Homo sapiens: one gene and its partners. The protein of the gene in region 2 interacts with the protein of the main gene of each other region in a pairwise test. Each region holds a gene or a part of one and is shown on either strand. Other genes may lie near its edges.

Region 1 (5,455 bases), about 66 Mb from region 2:
GATCTCTTGAGCCCAGGAGTTACAATTTAGAAGAGGCAGGGGTATCACAAAATATATATTCACGTATTATAAAATCTAAGTAGCAGTTTCATGTAAATTTTAGGGTTGGTTATAGAATTTCAGACCTATGTTGAATTTTGTTATATTTAAGGTGGAATGATTGATCCACAGTATACACAGATCTGTACAGTGAAGATTATGTCACGATAGGGCATACTTCTTTTTTTTTTTCCTTTTTTTTTTTCTAAGGGTGAGTCTCACTCTGTCGCCCAGGCTGGAGTACAGTAGCGCAATCTTGACTCACTGCAACTTCCACCTCCCAGGTTCAAGTGATTCTCCTGCCTCAGCCTCCTGAGTAGCTGGGATTACAGGCACATGCCACCATGCCTGGCTAATTTTTGTATTTTTAGTAGAGACGGGGTTTCATCATGTTGATCAGGTTGGTCTCGAACTCCTGACCTCAAGATCTGCTCGCCTCGGCCTCCCAAAGTGCTGGAATTACAGGCATGAGCCACTGCGCCTGGCCAGTAGGGCATACTTCTGTATGAGTGCTGAGGGCATGCTGTGAATGAAGTGACTACATTGGGTGGGATTAATAAAAATGGCTTCTTGAAGGAGGTGTCTAGATAGCCTTGGGATACGGGTCCCATTTTTGGTCCATTCAGGTCCCCACCCCACACAATATATTATGGGAGAGTCCTTTTTCTTGAACTGTAGGAGTTCCAGGAAGCGCTCGCCCCTGGCCGAGGATATGTCCTTGCAAAACACGAGCCCTCCTAGTGAAGAGGGGATGTCACCCAAAGCCTACCACCGGTGTGTACATTTGCTTTTTCCCATTGTCCCTTCCAGTTGGCCACTCTCGGTCCTGTTAAATTCACCTTGCAAATTAGTCATCATATTTGAGTTTCCATTGTTTGATGAAAACAAAGTGTTAATGGGGATTACTGAAGAAGAAAGAGAAAGCCCCTGTCCTGGAAGAGCTTAGACTTAGTTGGGAAAACTATACTAACATTGAAATACTTAACACTTGGCAAACAGAATATCAACAATGTAATTTAACCTAATATGAACCAAGCTCTTACACGCTAAGAGAATGTGAAACAAAAGTTTAATCAGAGTGGGATAGGTTATAATGAGGAAAACTTCTTGGAGGAGGTGAGTTTTAGGCAGGATTTGGAACAGGGGTTGTGGAAAAGTTGAGAGAAATCATTATAAATGTGAGCAGTAGCATTTGCAAAGACCTTGAGATGGGAACATTTATAAGAACATGGGAATGAAATTTGTTTGACTGGATTAGGAGAATGTTGAAGTTGGGTGAGATGGAGAGTCTAGTAGACCCTGCTTCTGGCAGGTGGCTATTTGCAAGGTTGTGTCATATTCCCCTGGGAATAGCCAGAAAATGCTGGTAGGGGCTAGGATAATTCTTCCCTTCTCCCCACGGGGAGGGATACAGCTTTTCTTTCATCTTGGGTTCCCTTAGGAGGTGTTTGGTGATGACTCTGAGATCTCTAAAGAATCATCAGGAGTAAAGAAGCGACGAATACCCCGTTTTGAGGAGGTGGAAGAAGAGCCAGAGGTGATCCCTGGGCCTCCATCAGAGAGCCCTGGCATGCTGACTAAGCTCCAGGTTAGTGATTAGGGACTGGAAGCAAAGTGGTTTTGTGAGTTGAAGAAGCAAAAGGTGCATGGGTCTGTATTTATTGTGGAATTTTTTTTTTTTTTTTTTTTTTGAGGTGGAGTTTTGCTCTTGTCACCCAGGCTGGAATACAGTGGCGCGATCTCAGCTCACTGCAACCTCCGCCTCCCGGGTTCAAGCAAATCTCCTGTCTCAGCCTACTGAGTAGCTGGGATTAGAGGCACCCACCACCAAGCCTGGCTAATTTTTGTATTTTTAGTAGAGATGGGGTTTCACCATGTTGGCCAGGCTGGTCTTGAACTCCTGATGTCAGGTGATGCACTCACCTTGGCCTCTCAGAGTGCTAGAATTACAGGAGCGAGCCACTGCGCCCGGCTAATTTTTTGTATTTCTTTTAGTAGAGACAGGGTTTCACCATGTTGGGCAGGCTGGTCTTCAACTTCTGACCTCAGGTCATCTGCCCACCTTCGCCTCCCAGAGTGCTGGGATTATAGGCGTGAGCCAGCGTGCCTCGCCTTATTGTGATCTTGATTTGAATTAGTGTTTAGCATTTGGGGTAAACTTTTTTTTTTGAGATAGAGTTTCACTCTGTTGCCCATGCTGGAGTGTAGTGGCGTGATCTCAGCTCACGGCAACCTCCACCTCCCAGGTTCAAGCGATTCTCCTGCCTAAGCCTCCGGAGTAGCTGGGACTACATGCGAACACCACTACGCCTGGCTAATTTTTGTATTTTTAGTACAGATGGTATTTTGTCATGTTGGCCAGGCTGCTCTGGAACTCCTGGCCTCAAGTGATCTGCCACCTCAGCCGCCCAAATGGCTGGGATTACAGGTGTGAGCCACCATGCCAGGCCAGCATTTGGGAAAATTTTATTTCCTGCTTTATGTTTTAGCGTTCTTTGATTTGACCAGGAGTATTCTAGGTAAGGGTATTGAAATTGCCATTTACTGTGGCAAGCAAAGTGTGTTATGTACATTATTTGCCTAATTACCTATGTCGTTGAGTCATTGAGAAAATTAAATGAAATGATCAGAACTCATCTTAATGACAGAGGAGACTCTCCAAACATAATGCAAAGAAGATATAATCCACTGATAAATAATTTTAAGTTGACTTTATTTTTTTTTAACAGGAAGTATTTGTGTTTTTTCAATTGGCATTGTTAAATAATACCACATAAGTGTTTCTTTTACCATTTAATATTTGAGGGGGGTAATAGAACATATACAGAAATATGGGTGGGTGGATTTGCATATATGTGATATTTACAGAAGGAAAGAAATGGATTTTTTTTGTGTGTGTGTGTGAGATGTTCTCTCTGTCACTCAGGCTGGAGCGCAGTGGTGCGATCTCGGTTCACTGCAGCCTCTGCCTCCCAGGTTCAAGTGATTCTCCTGCCTCAGCCTCCTAAGTAGCTGGGATTATAGGCATGTGCCACCACGCACGGCTAATTTTTGTATTTTTAGTAGAGACAGGGTTTCACCATGTTGACCAGGCTGGTCTGGAACTCCTGACCTCAAGTGATCTGCCTACCTTGGCCTCCCAAATTGCTGGGATTATAGGCGTGAGCCACCGTACCTAGCCTGTTTTTGTTTTTCAGGCAAGGTCTCACTTTTTTGTCCAGGCTGGAGTTCAGTGGCGAGATCTTGGCTTACTGCAACCTCTGCCTCCCGGGCTTGAGTGATCCTCCCACCTTGGCTTCCCAAGTAGCTGGGACTACAGGTCACCATGCCTGGCTGATTTTTGTATTTTTTTTAAAGATTGAGTTCCACCATGTTGCCCAGGCTGGTCTTGAACTCCTGGGCTGAAATGATCCTCCTGCCTCAGCCTCCCAAAGTGCTGGACTTACAGGCGTGAGCTACCACGCCCAGCCAATTATTTTCTTTTTTGGGGGGTGGGGGATGGAGTCTTGCTCTGTCACTTAGGCTGGAGTACGGTGGCGCGTTCTCGGCTCACTGCAACCTCTGCCTCCCGGGTTCACGCCATTCTCCTGCCTCAGCCTCCTGAGTAGCTGGGACTACAGGTATGTACCACCATGCCCGACTAATTTTTTGTATTTTTAGTAGAGATGGGGTTTCACCATGTTAGCCAGGATGGTCTTGATCTCCTGACCTCGTGATCCACCCGCCTCGGCCTCCCAAAGTGCTGGGATTACAGGCATGAGCCACCGTGCCAGGCCCAATGATGTTTTTTATGGAGAATGGGGATGGACGTATTCACAACATATCCTTTTGTTATGTTTCTTTCTTTTTTTTTTTTGAGACGGAGTCTCACTCTGTCGCCCAGAGTGGAGTGTAATGGCGCTATCTCGGCTCACTGCAACCTCCGCCTCCCGGGTTCAAGCTATTCTTCTGCCTCAGTCCCTTGAGTAGCTGGGATTACAGGCACGCGCCACCACGCCTAGCTAATTTTTTTGTATGTTTAGTAGAGACGGGGTTTCACCATGTTGGTCAGGCTGGTCTCGAACTCCTGACCTCGTGATCCGCCCGGCTCGGCCTCCCAAAGTGCTGGGATTACAGACGTGAGCTGCCAGGCCCAGCCTGTAATTTTTCATTTTATTTTATTTTATTTTTTGAGACGGAGTCTCGCTCTTGCACTGTTGCCTAGGCTGGAGTGCAATGCCGTGATCTCAGCTCACTGCAACGTCCGCCTCCTGGGTTCCAGCAGTTCTCCTGCCTCAGCCTCCTGAGTAGCTGAGATTACAGAACGTGCATCACCATGTCCAGCTAATTTTTGTATTTTTAGTAGAGATGGGGTTTCACCCTGTTAGCCAGGATGGTCTCGATCTCCTGACCTCGTGATCCACCTGCCTCAGCCTCCCAAAGTATTGGGATTACAGGCGTGAGCCACCACGCCCAGCCCTGTAATTTTTAATTTTTTTATTTTCTTTCTTTCTTTACTTATTTAGAGATGGAGTCTCCCCCTGTTGTCCAGGCTGGAGTGCAGTGGCATGATCTTGGCTCACTGTAACCTCCACCTTCTGGATTCAAGCGCTTCTCCTGCCTCAGCCTCCTGAGTAGCTGGCATTACAGGCGCCCACCACCACACCCGGCTAATTTTTGTATTTTTACTAGAGACGGTGTTTCACCATGTTAGCCAGGCTGGTCTTCAGCTCCTGACCTCAAGTGATTCGCCCACCTCAGCCTCTCAAAGTGCTGGGATTACAGGCGTGAGCCACCATGCCTGACCCTTCCGTAATTTTTGAATTTTGAATATATCACCTATTCAAGAAAAAATGTTAAAGACAAATGTTTAAAAATATCTTGAAGCAGTTTAAGAACAGGTCTGTTTTGCAAAATGTAAGAGGAGTTGTTTGGCCATACCCTCAAAGCTTATCATTCTGAACTTCTTTAGGACAGAAGGGGTTTATAGAGACTAGGGAGCAGGTCTTTGCACCATCGTCTCTTGTTTCCCAAACTAGTAGTTCAAGTACTAATATCATGATTTTTTAAAAAAAATTAAGTATAGGCTGGGTGCGGTGGCTCACACCTGTAATCCCAGCACTTTGAGAGGCCGAGGTGGGCGGATCACGAGGTCAGGAGATCGAGACCATCCTGGCTAACAGGGTGAAACCCCATCTCTACTAAAAATACAAAAAATTAGCCGGGCGTGGTGGTGGGCGCCTATAGTCCCAGCTACTCGGGATGCTGAGGCAGGAGAATGGCATGAACCCGGGAGGCAGAGCTTGCAGTGAGCCAAGATCGCACCACTGCACTCCAGCCTGAGTGACAGAGCGAGACTCCATCTCAAAAAAAAAAAAGAAAATTAAGTATAATATTTTGTGTAGGTTCTGTTAGGTTTGCATGCATTATTTAAGTG
Region 2 (5,455 bases):
AGTTATAATTAGAGAGCTCTAATTGGTGATTTCCAAAGTTTTGTATTAATAATATGTAGTATTTTGTAATATGTAAATAATTTTATTTATATGCATGTTCAAATTAAAGAGTTTATAAAGTACTCACTTCCTGAGAAGGCACTGAAAAGTTTCACATTTTCTGAGTTCTGGTGGTCAAAGGTAGTCATATTTAGAAACTGCTGCTTTAACCAACTGGCTCTTTCTTCTTCAAATGCCTTTCTCTACCATAAACAGCCAAAGAAATAATGATCAATATTTCAACATCCACACAGTTGCCATTTCACATGATTGCTCTAGCTATCTTTGTTTGCTCTCTGGCTATCTATTCGTACTTCTTATGTCAAATGAGTTAACCTAAAAAACTAAAAATAATTTCAGCACTCGTCTGTAATCCCAGTATTTTGGGAGGCTGAGGGTTGGTGGAGCACTTGAACTGAGGAGTTCCAAACCAGCCTAGGCAACACGGCAAAACCCTGTCTCTACACGAAATACAAACATCAGCTGGGCATGGTGGCACAGGACTACAGTCTCAGCTACTTTGGAGGCTGAGGAGGGAGGATGGCTAGAGGCTGGGAAGTTGACGCTGAAGTGAGCCGAGATAGCACCACTGCACTCTAGCCTAGGTGACACGGCAAGACCGTATCTCCAAAAAAAAAAAAAAAAAAAAAAAAAAAGCCGGGCGCAGTGGCTCATGCCTGTAATCCCAGCACTTTGGGAGGACAAGGTGGGCGGATCACAAGGTCAGGAGTTTGAGACCAGTCTGGCCAACATGGTGAAACCCCATCTCTACTAAAAATACAAAATTTAGCCGGGCATGGTGGCGTGCGCCTGTAGTCCCAGCTACTCAGGAGGCTGAGGCAGGAGAATCACATGAACCCAGGAGGCAGGGGTTGCAGTGAGCTGAGATCGCACCCCTGCACTCCTGCCTGGGCAACAAAGCAAGGCTCCATCTCAAAAAGCAAAACACGGCCGGGCACGGTGGCTCACGCCTGTAATCCCAGCACTTCGGGAGGCCAAGGCGGGTGGATCACGAGGTCAGGAGATCGAGACCATCCTGGCTAACATGGTGAAACCCCGTCTCTACTAAAAATACAAAACAAAAAAAATTAGCCGGGTGTGGTGGCGGGTGCCTGTAGTCCCAGCTACTCAGGAGGCTGAGGCAGGAGAATGGCATGAACCCAGGAGGCAGAGCCTGCAGTGAGCCAAGATCACGCCACTGCACTCTAGCCTGGGCAACAGAGTGAGACTCCATCTCAAAAAAAAACAAAAACAAAAAAACTAAGAAAAATTTCACTTACGAAAAAATTATGTTTAAAAAATAGAAATTCATCTGTTTCACCTAATAAACCAACCATCACTGTCTTCATATCAATTTTAAGTTCAAATAAACAATGCAAAAAATGGAACAGAATATTAGCATAACTTTTGAACATACAAAACATTATAAAGTTACAAACAAAAGAAAAATAATCTATATTGTAAATTAGTCACTTGAAAAACAGGACCTATGACTTCATCAAGCATTTCTCTCATCCTCTAGCCATCTACCAGTACTGGTAGCCACCACCACTAAACCACAAGAGGGCATAGGCAAATTATGTCAAACCTCCCCCTTCTGAATAGCTGATGAATCCTAAACTAAATTCTCCATCAGCCCTCAGGTCTTGCATGCCTCCCTCCCATCCCTCACTATGCCCACTGTCCCAGTGACCAGACGGAGAAAAATTCTCTTGCAGGGAAAGGCACCTGGCAACTGGGAGCAATATGCAAAGTAGCAAGAGTAATTACTCTCTTGGAGTAATGTGGGGAATAAGGGCTTGGAAACAGGTAGGAGACAATGCTGGTCAAGTGTTGTTCCCTGAAGATAGCTACTGATGAAACAGACGTTCACACTGTGAACTGAGGAAATCCACGTCAGCTACTGAAAACAAGCAACACACAGTCTTTCATTCATAAATATTGATACAGAATCACGCATCACCAAACATTGAGAAAACTAATATAGAAAAAAGGTCAAGATAAATAGAAAACTGACCATGGATAAGAGATAATTCAACAGATGAAAGAAATCTTTTTTAAAAATGTAACAAATATTATCAGATTAATAAACATCTGTAAAATACCATCATGCTATATAAAGAAAAGCAAAAATTAAGGACATTAGAAAAATTTAAAGATAAATTCTGAAGCAAAGACTCAGTGGCTAAAGCAAATAATAAAACTGACCCTGAAAGGCCAGTTTCGTGATCTCTAAGATAAAGGTAAGAGAATATCCCAGAATTGAGAACAAAAGTCAACCTGTAGATATATATTCAGAAGGCCAAATGTGTGTCTAACAAAAGTTCCAGAACACAGAGAAGTCAAAGAAGGAAAAAATAAAGAAGAAAATTTCCCTAAATTAAAGAAATACAGAATCTTTAGGATGAAAGGAACTCTCTAGAAGTATCCTGGTAAAATTTCCAAACTTTAAGAAAATACCAAAGCTTCCACAGAGGGAGATAGAAAACAAAACACAGTTATCTACAAAGTAACACAGGTATATTACAATCAGGCTTCTCATCAGTAAAACTAAACACTAGGAGAAATGGAATAATTCAAAGTTTTGAAGGAAAAAAAACTGGAATCTAAATTCTATACACAGCCAAACCAATCAAGTATGAATATATTTTTGACTATTCCAGAATTCAGAATGTTTACAGCTCATGCACTATTTATAAAAAAAAAATTACTCAAGAATTAGTAATTACTCAATTACTAATATAGCGAATTGAACAGAAACCCAAGAAAGACAGTAACATGAGATATGAGCAACATGGCAGCTGAAATCTGATTCAGGAAATCACAAAGGAAGCTACAGAGAAAAAGAATTCACTAGATAGTGATATATCTCTCTGGGTGGCAAAGTCTTAATAATACAGAATATTTTCTGTGTCCAAACATATTTGGTTATAGAATAACATTTACATAATTGTAGTATTATCAATTTTCTTTCCTGGTTTTCCAACTTTTAAGTCTCAAGTTTAGACAAAGTACTTATACCTGGATTGTATTAGAGGACAAACTATGAATGTGATAACAATGAAAAATAATATCACAAAAATTGCAAAGTAGTACAGCAAGAGAGGTAGAACAAGAGTAACAACAAGAAAGTCCTCAGCTTTCACTGCAGGGATGAACTGATACTGACTGAAGTTGAACAAACATGAAATGGAAGCTTTTTATTATTTCCTTAAAGCAAAAAAAAGGCAAGCAGACGAACAAGAGGAACAATATTATGAAGACATGAGATGTGAATGAGGAAGGGTGTAGGTAGGAGGTACAATAAGGACACAGAATTCCTTATCTTTCATAGCAGGGAATCAATGAACTGATAAACAAGAAAACTTGAAATACATTAAAAGTTAAAATAGTACTTCCTAGAAGAATTTCCAACAGATACTTTTTAACAGCAGTTACCTCTAAGGAATGAAACTGAGGATGAGAAAGGAGGATACTTTCTTACTTTGTAGCTTTTTTTAATGAGTTTTGTTGATTTTTTTTTTTTAACCTTATTCAGACATTACTGCTACAATTTTTGAAGGGGGAATATGTAGATGACACATTGCTAAGTAAAAAAAGCAAGCTGTAGAGCGTATATATAACAATGATGGACTGGGGAGAAGAGAACTTAATTTTTTATTATACTTCCTTTTTAAACAGCAAATATAGTCTTGGTTGCACTGTCTTCTGACACCACACCTACTGACCGTGGATGAATGATGGATACCCAAAAGAGATTTCTTGTGTAAAACACTTAGCAGGAGAAAGCCAATCTGAAAGCAGTAATAAATGCTTATAGCGTTTTTTTTTCTTAAGTTCAATTCTCAAATCTGGTAAGGGGAAATGATCCCATTCTATATGCTCAGCCTCCCTCTCATTTCAAATTATTTGTGAGATCACCAGTAAATATTTTAGAAAATAAGTAAATAGCAAGAAAAAAAGGAGACCTTAGAAGCATTCTACTGAGGCCCACCCACCCCCAGTATTTTCAAAAGCACTACAATTGTTTAAAATACCTCCAATCCCAGGCGAATAGCGGCTTCTGTAAAGCTTCGTCTCTCCCTCTCAAAATTCTTTTTCTGCTCTTTAAAAAGGGACCATTCTTCTTTGAGACGTTCCTTTTCTTCCAACAAATAACAGTCTCGTAATAGTGAAGTGGTATCATCATCATATGCAGTAGCGAGCTGCTGCTATTAAAATTTAAAACATAGTAAGTTCCTGAGGGACCTTGCGACACTCCAACGAGTTGAAATGAAAGCAAGGGAAGGCCAGTCAAACTTCAGGGCAGGAATAGAAATTATTAAGAATCAAAAAGTCAAATGAGAATTCTCATTTCCCGAAACCTACTACCCCAACTAGCAAAGTATGGACTATTTAAGGAGTGGTACACAATGTATCTGTTAGCAGGGAACACAGACTAGAAATCTGTCAAATACCAGGGCCTTATGAAATAAAGGAATACAAATCTGGTAAGGTTCAGCACAATTCTGGCTTTTCATGGAGAACAGCTTTAAAAGGTAATTCATATTCACCTGTAAAAGCTGTTGCTGAGTTTTAATCATTTCTTTACACTGCTGAATTTCTAACTCGAGTTTTTCAGTTTCTTGTTCATGGTCTTGTCGTGAGATTACATCTTCATCATTAAAACCTTCCAGGTGTACCTTTGAAACTAAGACAAAATCAGTAAGTTGACATAGGTCTTATAGCCACCACTTAGTTTACAGTGTTTTGCACATATCTTTAAAACAAGGGCTCTCAGAACTTTTATCTTTCTAGAATTTTATAGGTTTTCTAAAAAGTAGTTACGTCCTTTGACTTTTTAAAATTTCATAAGCTATAACAAAATTAAATTTATATTATTTTAACATTATAAAAAATGTTTAAGCAAAGCAACTACAGGAGTTCATGACGACAATTACACATTTGTGCAATTTTAAGACTAAATGATATGCTTACAAACAGAGCTCTATTGCCAACAATTTGTAATCCATATTTATTCATGATTATGTCCTAATTAAAAACAGACAAAATGGCCATATTCAGAGAAGAGAAAAATAAAATCATGTTTTTGTTGACACTGCTTCAAAGATCAATGAAGTGTCACAAATCTTGCTCTCAAATATTAAATTCAACAAATACGAAGTCCAAACATACTTGCTATTTGATAATAAACAGCATTGACTCAAATGAACAAAATCTCATGTAGATTCATTTTGGTGCTGTAATAATAATTTTGCTGATTGCTCTTTACTAATACTTAACACAATGGCACTGAGTTCATATTTTGACAATTTAAATTTTTCTTTAAATAGGCTTCATTTACTGAGCAGAAATCTTCATTTTCCTAGTTTAAAAGCATTCAAACTTTACCAAGCAGAAAATATTAAGAATATAT
Region 3 (5,455 bases), on a different chromosome or scaffold from region 2:
TCTGCTAATTCTAATATATGTCAGTCCTGCTCAGTTTTGATTGTTTTCTAAATTATGGATCATATTTTTCTGCGTTTCTGCATGCTTGATAATTTTTATTAGATGTCAGTCATTATGAATTTTACTTTATTGGGTGGTAGATATTTTTGTATTTCTATAAATATTTTGTGATTTTTTCTGGTACATAGTTAAAATAGTTTGAAACAGTTTGATTCTTTCATGTCTTGCTTTAAGATTTACGTGAAACCAGAGAAATGCACAGTTTAGAATTAAGTATTCCCCCCTACTAAGGCAAGACCCTTCTGTGTACTCTACCCATTCCTTTGTGGATTATGAGTTTTTTTACCCTAGCTAATGGGAACAGGCAATATTCCCGTTCTTCTGTGACTGTAGTGTACCTTGGACCTTTCCCTGGTCTTGGGGTGTTTCCTCACTTGCCTGTGCTGATCATTACAAAGGTAAATAACCCAGCGAGGACCCTCTCTGTTGTGCTGTGTCTGTGTGTAGCTCTCTTTTCCAGTATTCTGGAAATCTCTGCAAGGATCTGTCCTCACATAGAGCTCATCGCAGTTGTTTCAATAGGGCTCATTGCAATTGTTTCCTGGCTCTCGGGGATCAGTTTTTCTTGACCTGATGATGCAGGATTTTTCTCGACCCCTTTGTCAGATTTGCAATGGGGGTGCCCTGTTTACTCAGCCTGCCACACTCAACCCCTTGCAGGAGGGAGCACGTGAGCAAGCGAGTGGGTTCAGGCTGGCTGCTTTGGGTGCCGGCAGGAGCAAGCTCCATGCACACCCTGTGGCGGTGCCCAGGTGGGAGTGCCTGTGATCCCCAGAATCCCAGAGGGCATGCTACAATGCCCTCTTAGCTTAGCTTTACCGTTTATGGACAGCAGTGTTATCAGCTCAGTGGGCCCCTTGTCTTGTCATGTGGGGTGTCTACACTCCACCAGCAAGGGCAAAGGGCTAGTGTGACAGCCTTTTTTGGGTACCTGCATCCAGTGGGTCCCAAGCCCTTGTGTGGTGTCCAAGAAGAACGAGGTCATGCTGACACTTGAAGGATGGTGGAGGCAGATAATTTTATTTAGCGATGGATGTCTCTCAGTGGAGAGAGGAGCTGGAAAGGGGGATGGGATGGTCAGGTAATCTTCCCTGAAGTCAGAGCGTCCCTCTGAAGTTAAGCTATCTTTCCTCTGAAGTCCAGCTGTCCCTCTGAAGTCAAGTTGCTTCTCTCCAGTCAAGCTGCTTCTCTCCTCTACTGACTGAGTCCAGGGTCTTTAGAGGCACAGAATGGGGGTGCAGGGCAAGCCATGGGTAGTTTTGGAAAAGGCAACATTCGATTGGTAAAAAGACATTATTCAGAAAGAACCAATCAGGAGAGAACAGGCAAACAGGGATAGAAGTTCTCACCTTGGGCAGCAGGTTTCAGGCTACTTTGACTTGAAGGTGCTGTTTCACTGGGGACCCGCCCCTGTCTGCCTAGAATTTCTCTGCCTCCTGCTTCCATCGCTGATGTTCAGTGTTTTGAAGACATTGTTTCATATGTTCTGTCTGTGTTTTGGTTGTTTCAGGCAGAAGCATGAATCTGGTCTCTGTTACTCCATCTTGGCTAGAAGTAGGAATCATGCCTTTTAATTTTGTCCAATTTTCTTACTTTAAAAATATTTAAAATTTTAAATAGAAAAATTCATCAGTCTTTACCTTAATGGGCTCTGTACTTGGTGTCATGCTTAGGAACATTTTTTTGTTTAAGAACTTATAAAAAAATTTACTTCTATTTTTCAAATATTTGAATTGTCTTATTCAGATATTTTATTAATATGGAACACTACATTATACACAATTTGGAAAATAGCTAAAATATGGGGAATGGGGGAGAACACCTGTAATTCCATCACCAAACACACTGTAAATTTATATATTGACATATTTTCTTCCATGTGTTTTCCTGTGCCTTTATTTTTTGTGTATTTGTAATGCTGGTGTCCATCATTTAGCATGTTCATCCATGTTTATCCAGTGCATCGCATCATTAACATTTTTTATGTTGCTACATAATCTTCACAGTTGCATTTTAATGACTGAGTTATATTTCATCAAATGATTATATTACAATTATATTACCTTTATACTGTTAAGCATGTTAGCTATTTCTTCTTAAAGTATATGAAGCAATTATCAGAGAGTACATTTTCAGAGAATCCTAACTTTGCCTACTTACACATGACCCCATGAGAGCAGAAGTGTGACTAAGGCCCCTGATGTGTCATTGCATCTGTCTCTAAGCCCATTCTAGTACATTCAATAAAATCCTATTTGTAGAAAAATGAGAAGAAAATAAAAACATCAATTCTTAATAGCTCAATCCATTTCTTATTACTCATATAGTTATAAAACAAACTTTAAAAAACAGCTTAGAATTTCTATATTTAGTATGCATTAACATGCTCTCTCAATTACTTTCTAATACTTATTTGTGCTTGCTTATTTTTAGGAAAGATACTATTCAAGTCCAGTACATCATAATGCAGAATTCTGTATCAGTACCACCAAAAGATGAAGGTAAGTTAAACTGCTGAGGAAAATGGTGATGAGTCTGTTATAGTTTTAATTTGATACATTGAATGTCATTGACCTCTAATCATAAGGTAACTTATTTCCTAGAATTAAAAATAAAAATTATAATTATATATGAAAACTCATTTCTTTTGGTAAATAATTTGAGTGTATATGGATTCCTGAGTTTTAAGGACCTGTCTCCTTTATAGGCTATAGCGCCTTGAGAGCCCAGCCATCTCATTCCACCCAAAACTCACAGAGCCCTGCTTATTCACTGGCAGTTAACTGGCACTAACAGATATCAGTAAAATTAAAAAGTGTTGGCTTTATTGAAGCAAAATAACACAAGTATTTTAGTGAGTAGAAGAATATATGCATATATATTCACACACACATCTGTAGACATACACTTAGAGGATATAGAATTTGTGTATACATTTCTTTGCCTGTTTCCCCTGATATCCATTTAAAAAGAAATAGAAAAACTATTTTACTTTTTGCAATGTATAAAAAATAAAATAATGATTTTTTAACAGGCACTTCTGGACCTTCCAGAAGAACCTGTACCTCCAGATGGAGGTAGAGTCCTTTCTTCATCAAGAGTAATTAAATTACCCTCACCATAAAGGGTACACTCTAACCCCGGGGAGAAATACCAGTCTTTCCCTGCCCCATCTAGTCTCTTCCACACAGAAGAGAAGTTCTGACATGTATGAGAAAAAAGACATATCTTTAATGAGGCAAAATTAGGTTGCCTTAGTGGAACATGTAGCTTTTAGTGAAAGGAGGGAATTTGTTATGAAGGACCCTTAAATAGAGCAAACACCCTTTGATCTCTCTACCAGTGAGAAAGGTAGTATCATAACTCTTGAGCACATGGAATCTGGATTTGAAACTCAGTCCTACCACTTAACTGTAAAACTTTAGGTGTATCACTTGACCTCAGCTTCCACATCTGTAAATCTATAAAATGAAGATAATAAGTTCCACTCTATAGGATATGTGGAGACTAAAGGAAATAGCATATGTAAATCACCTAGCATATTGTTGTTTGCATAGTAGGCACTTATATGATGATAAAACTACCATTCTCAATGGCTATTATTAATATCTGGGACATCCTCATCTTTGAGACTGGTCAGTGAGATGGCCATGAGGCCGCCTCTTGCCTGGGATGCCTAATGGCCTTGGAAGGCCAAACATGCTCCAAGGGGACCCATGGGGAGTAAGCAGGAATTAGACCGCTTGGTTTGATTCTTACCCAGGAGTTGATCCGAAGAGAGAGTGAGAGTCCTTGAGACTCACACAAAATCCAGCCGGGAACACTAGGGCAAGAAAGGAGATGGGCAAACCCCAACTAGAAATAAAGAGCATGTGTTTTTCTTGAGTGTTCTCTGGTATATATCCTCTGGAAGATTTGTGCAGCACTTGGTAGCTGATGAAGGGTTTGAAATTCAGTGTCCTAGCTGGTATTACCTTTTTTTATCCAAGCAAGCAAGGAGAAGCTTAGGAGAAAAAATAATGGAACAAGTATCAGGAAAGCTGGACTCCATTCCATACCTGCCTCCAACCAGCTGTGGAACCCCAGGCAAAGTTATTTTGCCCCTGAGCCTCAGTTTTCTCATTGAAAAATCGAGAATGACTAGGTGTTCCTTTCAGGCTCTAAAAAGGTGAGTCTATGTGAGTAACTAAGCAACAAGCTGCTTGGCTCTGGCTGATACAGAGGGAGAAAGCACTCACACCTCTTGGCTGCTTTGCTTCTCATCACAGTTTGTTTTGTTCTGATGCCTACCTCTCTGGGCTATCACATAAGCTTGGATACTTCCATTGACCGGAAAGTAAGACCCCTTGGCCCTACCCAGAGCTCAAGTAAACCTCCTTACCCAGTCTTTTCTGGGACTAAAGATGCTTAAGCCCAATCCTGGAATTTGACAGAGGATATATAATAGCTTAAAAAAACCTCAATCATGTGCCTCCATTGTGATAATCATTCTACCTACAACTTTACATCCTTTATTTAATCTTCACAATAAGTTAGACGTAAACCTTATTTTACAACTTCAAGATTAGGTACTTTTTGCCAAGACCACCAACCAGTAAGTGACTGATCCAAGATTTGAACTCAGATCTATCATAAAATTTATAAAGAATATTTATATAAATTATAGAGAATATATATTTATAAAGAATATTTAATTTATAAAGATATTTCTATAAGAATTTACAATTTATAAAGAATATTTCTAATAATTTTTGATCATCTCCTTTTTCTCTCATCAAACATACTATGCTTAATTACACATATGAATGCTTAAAGCCATTTTAAACCAAAGTGAGCAGAAATTATAACTTAAATTATGGAAAATTACATCAATAAGGAAAAATAATATATGTGAATACATGTAAGTCCTATGAATTGCCCAGTTATTCATTAATTTACTCATTCATTCATTCAAATGCTTTCTGTATGTCTTAGATTAATATTAATATTTTTTAACAAAAGCATCAGATGTATTAATTATGATTCTGTTTATGATCAAATATAATTTATGGCTAGGTACAGCAGCTCCCACCTGTAATCCCAGCACTTTGGGAGGCTGAGGTGGGAGGATAACTTGAGGCCAGGAGTTAGAGACCAGCCTGGGCAACATAGCAAGACTCCATCTCTACAAAAAAATTTCAAAATTAGCTAGGCGTGATGGCTCATGCCTATAGTCCCAGCTACTTGGAAGGCTGAGCTAGGAGGATTGCTTGAGCATAGGAGTTTGAGGCTGCAGTGAGCTATGATCATGCCATGGCATTCCAGCCTGGACAACAGAACAAGACCTTGTCTCTAAATATATATATATATATATATATATATATATATATATATATATATATATACACACACACAC
Region 4 (5,455 bases), on a different chromosome or scaffold from region 2:
AGGTGCCTGTAATCCCAGCTACTCAGGAGGCTGAGGCAAGAGGATCAGTTGAACCTGGGAGGCAGAGGTTGCAGTGAGCCGAGATCCTGCCACTGCACTTCAGTTTGGGCAACAGAGTGAGATTCTGTCTCAAAAAACAAACAAACAAATAAAAATACATTTATAAATTATAAAACTAAATGAAATTACACATTCGGTAAAATTTAAATCTACATCAGGTAATGCTAGGGATGATGTGAAACTAATGCTCCTCACAATATGTATATGGCACTGATGGGAGTTTGGAATGCCTCTACTAATGTTGCCTTATAGTTATTTACCACTTTTTCTATGAAATTACTGTAGAACCTTTATTTGTACAGATGGTCATTTGACCTTCACATGGCAAAACCTAACATTTATGTATTAAATCTACCTGCTTAATGCAATAAAATTAGGACTTAGTTATAAAATTATGTAGTAGTTATAAATCCAGATGGGAGCACTGAAATCACACAGTAGTACTGGCTTATAATGATTGTCATCCGCATTATCCAGAATATGCTCATGAAATTATCCTAGACAATTCTTAAAATCCAGAGACCATGGCCTCAAGTAACTAGGATTCTTGGACCTTGAGAAACATAGCCATAGAGGTTTTATTTACCATTGGTGTTCCTGAGTAATTATTTTAGTGTCAGTACTGGGATATTTAGAATGGAAGGAGCAGTGTGTTTAACTGCAACCTGTGTTAGCATTTCTGTCTTATTAGTTGAAAACTCATCCACTAGAGGCAGAACAAAGCATCAGGGATAAAAGGAAAAGTAGAATAGGTTGGAGTTATTGAGGCCCTTATTGTACTTCGTCTCTCCCCCCTTGAAATTTTCAGCTACTTTACTTTGTTCATTTAATCTGTTTTATTCTAAATATTATATATTCTAAATTTGTTTTAACTTCTTTCTCTTTTTCTTTTCCTGCACTAAATCCTATAACAGCTGGTATTTGTATTGTTTTGATTTTTTTTTTCCTTTTTACTTAGCAAAATGTGTTCAGAATGAGCCTCTGTGGAGAGTCAGGCGAGTCATGTCCCATGGTAGTTTAGCCCATTTTAATGGACTAAATCCAGGTCACTGGTCTGTCAAGATTATGTAACTAATGGCATATCCAAGACTAAGCACCTGTCTCTGCACTTCTGCTCCTACTTTTGCCCACTCCAACTCACAATTCTTTGCCTAGTGGTACTTCATGAATACTGTAGACTATGGAACACTCCTGGTTTTTTTTTTTGAGACAGAGTCTCACTCTCTCGCCCAGGCTGGAGTGCAATGGCACGATCTAGGCTCACTGTAACCTCTGCCTCCCAGGTTCAAGTGATTCTTCTGCCTCAGCCTCCTGAGTAGCTGGGATTACAGGTACCCACTATCATGCCCGGCTAATTCTTGTACTTTTGTAGAGATGGGGTTTCACCATGTTGGCCAGGCTGGTCTCAAACTCCTGATCTCAGGTGATCTGCCCACCTTGGCCTCCCAAAGTGCTGGGATTACAGGCGTGAGCCACTGCGCCCGGCCAGGAACACTGCTGTTTATTGTAGCACACGTTAGATGGGTAAACATTACCCAGAAGGCTAGAATGTTGAGTGTAACTATGAGAGTGCCTTGGCAAATGATTGGAGTGCCTTGGCAAATGATTTCTGGAATAGTGAGCTCTTAATTACAGATAGCTTCTTTGGCATCCATTCTACTTCAGATAACTGGAAACAAGCTACCTCGTCAGAAATTAAGATATTAAAAGCAAGTTGCAAAACTATAGCATGATTCTGTGTGTACAGTTACATGTACAGGTTGAGTATCCCTTATCTGAAATGCTTGCGTTGTATTTACCAGTTCAGCATCCCAAATCCAAAGATCCAAAATTCGAAATGCTCCAATGAGCATTTCCTTTGAGCATTGTTGTCACTCAAAATATTTCTCATTTTTGGATTTGGGGTGCTCAACCTGTATAATACCATTGGATATACATTTGATCCTTGAACAATGTGGGAGTTAGGGGACTCTGACCGCCCCCCGCCCCTCCCCACAGTGGAAAATTTGCATATAACTTTTCACTCCCCCAAAACTTACTATTAAGTGCCTGCTGTTGACTCTAAGCCTTACCAATAACATAAACAGTTGATTAACACATACTTTGTATGTTATATGTATTATATACCATATTCTTATAATAAAGTAAGCTAGAGAAAAGAATGTTACTAAGAAAATCCCGAGGAGGAGAAAATATATTTGCCCTTCATTAAATGGAAGTGGTTCATCATAAAGGTCTTCATTCTCCTTGTCTTAATGTTGAGTAGGCCGAGGAGGAAGAGGATGATTTGGTCTTGCTCTCTTGGGTGGCAGAGGTGGAAGAGGTGGAGGAGGTAGAAGGGAAGGCAAGAGGGTAGACGGCACTTGGTGTAACTTTGCAGAAATACATTATAATTTCTGTCTGACATTTTTGCTTTTTCATTTCTCTAAAAATGTTTCTATACAGTACCAATTCTTCCACCACTTGCTTTAGTTTAAATGCATTAGTTTTCAGTATAGAAGGGTCCATAAAAGAAGTCAAAAGCAGTCTTGAATAATTGGCCCTTCTGCCAGATTGTCTAGTGTCAATTTGTTTTCTGGCACTGCTTCACCTCAGTTTTCTTCCTCATCACCTTGCACTGGTTTGGAAGGACTCATCCCCATCAAATTGGCTTTTGTTAACTACTCTGGTGTGTCTGTTAGCTCTTGAATTTCTTCAAGATATCTTGAGACCCTTCACCCCGACCCCCCTGCACTTTTCCCCCCCCCCCATATTTACAATCTCTTTCACGATTTCCTTGATTGGCTCTGTCTTAAGTCCAATGATGCCATGCACAATATCTGGACACATTTTTTTCTCCAGCAGGACTTTGTTTTGGGCTTGATGATTTTCATGGCTTTTTCTATAACAACAATAGCATCTTCAATGGTATAATCTTTACACACTTTCTTGATACTCTCTGTATTAGGGTTCTCTCCCATAGCATTGACAATCCTTTCCGTAGAGTACCACGTGTAATGAGCTTTAGAGGTTCTTACGACCCCCTGGTCTAGAGGCTGAATTAGAAACATTGTGTTTGGGGGCAAGTAGACCACTTTGACACCTTCAGTGTTGAACTCATGGGGTTCTGGGTGGCCAGGGGCATTGTCCAATATTAAAATAATTTTAAAATCCAGTTCCTTATTGGCAAGGTACTTCCTGACTTCAGGGACAAAGCATCAGTGGAACCAATTCAGAAAAAAGGATTTCCATTGTCCAGGCCTTCTAGTTGTACAACCAAAAGACAGGCAGCTGGTGCTGATCTTTTCCCTTCAAGGATTGGGGGTGGGGGTTAGCAGCTTTATAGATAAGGGCAGTTCTGATCATAAACCCCACTACGTTTTCATGAAACAGTAGAGTTAGCCTGTCTCTTTTTGTTTTCAATCCTGCTGCTTGCTTCTCTTCCTACTAAATGTCCTTTGTGGTGTTTTTCTAGAATAGGATACTTTCATCTGCATTAAAAACCTGTTCAGGCCAGGCGCAGTGGCTCACGCCTGGAGTCCTAGCACTTTGGGAGGCCAAGGCGGGTGGATCACGAGGTCGGGACTTCGAGGGCAGCCTGGCCAACATGGTGAAACCCTGTCTCTGCTAAAAATACAAAAAGTAGCTGGGCGTCCTATTCACGCAGATATCCTTTCTCCTCAGTGATTTTCTTTTTTGTTTTTTGTTTTTTTTTTTGAGATGGAGTCTTGCTCTGTCGCCCAGGCTGGAGTGCAGTGGCATGAACTCGGCTCACTGCAACCTCCGCCTCCCGGGTTGAAGCAATTCTCCTGCCTCAGCCTCCAGAGTAGTTGGGATTACAGACACGCACCACCGCGCCCGGCCATCATGACTTTTCTCTGCTTCTTGAGAGCACTTCCAGCATCGCTAGTCGCACTTTGTGTGAGTCTCATGATGTTATTCAAGGTTTACCATTTTGTAGTAAACACAGTGAAAAATACGCCAGAGATCACTTCTTACTGCCATACACAATTTACTGAAGAGATGAACTGCTCATGCAGAGATGAGTAGTGTCACAAGGTGTTTTAAGTGAATACTCATAGTATTTGAGCTCACTGCAATAGCAGCAGGAGGTGGCTATGAAATTATTGCAGTAGTGCAGTGTGTACTACAGTTAATTTTTTTCTTCCTTCTGTACCTCATTGGATGCGTTTTTTTCCTTGTTTTGTACTACAGTTAATTTCATGCAGTTATGATTTAATACTGCATATTTATGTTTGTTTACATTTTTCTCAACTGTGAATGTGCCATATATGGTCTATAAATATAAGTTTTGATAAATTTTAACTTTAAAAAAAGTTGTCAATGATTATGTTGTAGCACAACTTTTATAGTAATATTCAAGGAAAAATGTTTGAGACCGAACTTCTCTGTCTTAGAATGGAATGAAGTCAGAGATCATTTTGTTTCAAATCGTTTTTTTTTTTTTTTTTTTTTTTTTTTGAGACAGAGTCTCGCTCTGTCGCCCAGGCTAGGGTGCAGTGGTGCAATTTCGGCTCACTGCAACCTCTGCTTCCCAGTTTCAAGCAATTCTCCTGCCTCAGCTTCCTGAGTAGCTGGGATTACAGGCGTGCACCACCACACCTGGCTAATTTTTTTATTTTTAGTAGAGATGGGGTTTCGCCATGTTGGCCAGGCTGGTCTCGATCTCCTGACCTCAAGTAATCCGTCCACCTCGGCCTCCGAAAGTGCTAGGATTACAGGCATGAGCCACCGCTCCCTGGCCTGTTTCAAATGCTTTAAGCAAGGAAACAATAAAACACTTAACTTATATTGTAACAGTATCTGTATATGTGCTGCTCAAGCCAGCACAATATTGCTTAACAGTATCTGCATTAACTTTTTTTTTTTTTTTTTTTGAGACGGTGTTTTGCTCTTGTTTCCCAGGCTGGAGTGCAGTGGCGCGATCTTGACTCACTGCAACCTCCACCTCCCGGGTTCAAGCAATTCTCCTCCCTCAGCCTCCCGAGTAGCTGGGATTACGGGGGGCTGCCACCACGCCCGGCTAATTTTTGTATTTTTAGTAGAGATGGGGTTCACCATGTTGGCCAGGCTGGTCTCGAACTCCTGACCTCAGGTGATCCGCCCGCCTTGGCCTCCCAAAGTGCTGGGATTCCAGGCATGAGCCACCACGCCCAGCTCTGCATTAACGTTTTATAATAGATTTATATTTATGGTAGCAAATGATAAAATAGACTAGTATGTACATATATTTTATGCATTCATGACATACCTTTTTCTTAATTTTTTTCAGTGTTTCTAGGCCATGCCACTTACCTATTTTTTTTTTCAAATTGTTGCAAATATCCCCTAAATGTTCCAGTGTGTTTACTGAAAAAAAATCTGTATTTAAATAGACCAAGGTGGTTCAAACCTG

Evidence for each region. Proteins that work in one complex are often made in the same cells at the same time.
Region 1: the proteins of SSX2IP (region 2) and PRPF3 interact in binary tests that used the Homo sapiens proteins (3 or more experiments, as listed by UniProt).
Region 3: the proteins of SSX2IP (region 2) and ZNF438 interact in binary tests that used the Homo sapiens proteins (3 or more experiments, as listed by UniProt).
Region 4: the proteins of SSX2IP (region 2) and ZRSR2 interact in binary tests that used the Homo sapiens proteins (3 or more experiments, as listed by UniProt).

Annotation. Positions count from the first base shown.
Region 1 is NC_000001.11:150,326,840-150,332,294, forward strand, and holds part of PRPF3 (U4/U6 small nuclear ribonucleoprotein Prp3), read left to right. Parts: intron 1-717; exon of another isoform or gene 718-813; intron 814-1,480; coding exon 1,481-1,627; intron 1,628-3,612; exon of another isoform or gene 3,613-3,659; intron 3,660-5,455. UniProt on the Homo sapiens protein: Plays a role in pre-mRNA splicing as component of the U4/U6-U5 tri-snRNP complex that is involved in spliceosome assembly, and as component of the precatalytic spliceosome (spliceosome B complex).
Region 2 is NC_000001.11:84,651,756-84,657,210, forward strand, and holds part of SSX2IP (afadin- and alpha-actinin-binding protein), read right to left. Parts: intron 4,730-5,455; coding exon 4,593-4,729; intron 4,251-4,592; coding exon 4,077-4,250; intron 3,834-4,076; coding exon of another isoform or gene 3,710-3,833; intron 243-3,709; coding exon 128-242; intron 1-127. UniProt on the Homo sapiens protein: Belongs to an adhesion system, which plays a role in the organization of homotypic, interneuronal and heterotypic cell-cell adherens junctions (AJs).
Region 3 is NC_000010.11:30,874,104-30,879,558, reverse strand, and holds part of ZNF438 (zinc finger protein 438), read left to right. Parts: intron 1-2,493; coding exon of another isoform or gene 2,494-2,524; coding exon 2,525-2,561; intron 2,562-4,049; exon of another isoform or gene 4,050-4,228; intron 4,229-5,455. UniProt on the Homo sapiens protein: Isoform 1 acts as a transcriptional repressor.
Region 4 is NC_000023.11:15,792,291-15,797,745, forward strand, and holds part of ZRSR2 (U2 small nuclear ribonucleoprotein auxiliary factor 35 kDa subunit-related protein 2), read left to right. Parts: exon of another isoform or gene 1-3,759; coding exon of another isoform or gene 3,760-3,960; intron 3,961-5,455. UniProt on the Homo sapiens protein: Pre-mRNA-binding protein required for splicing of both U2- and U12-type introns. Selectively interacts with the 3'-splice site of U2- and U12-type pre-mRNAs and promotes different steps in U2 and U12 intron splicing.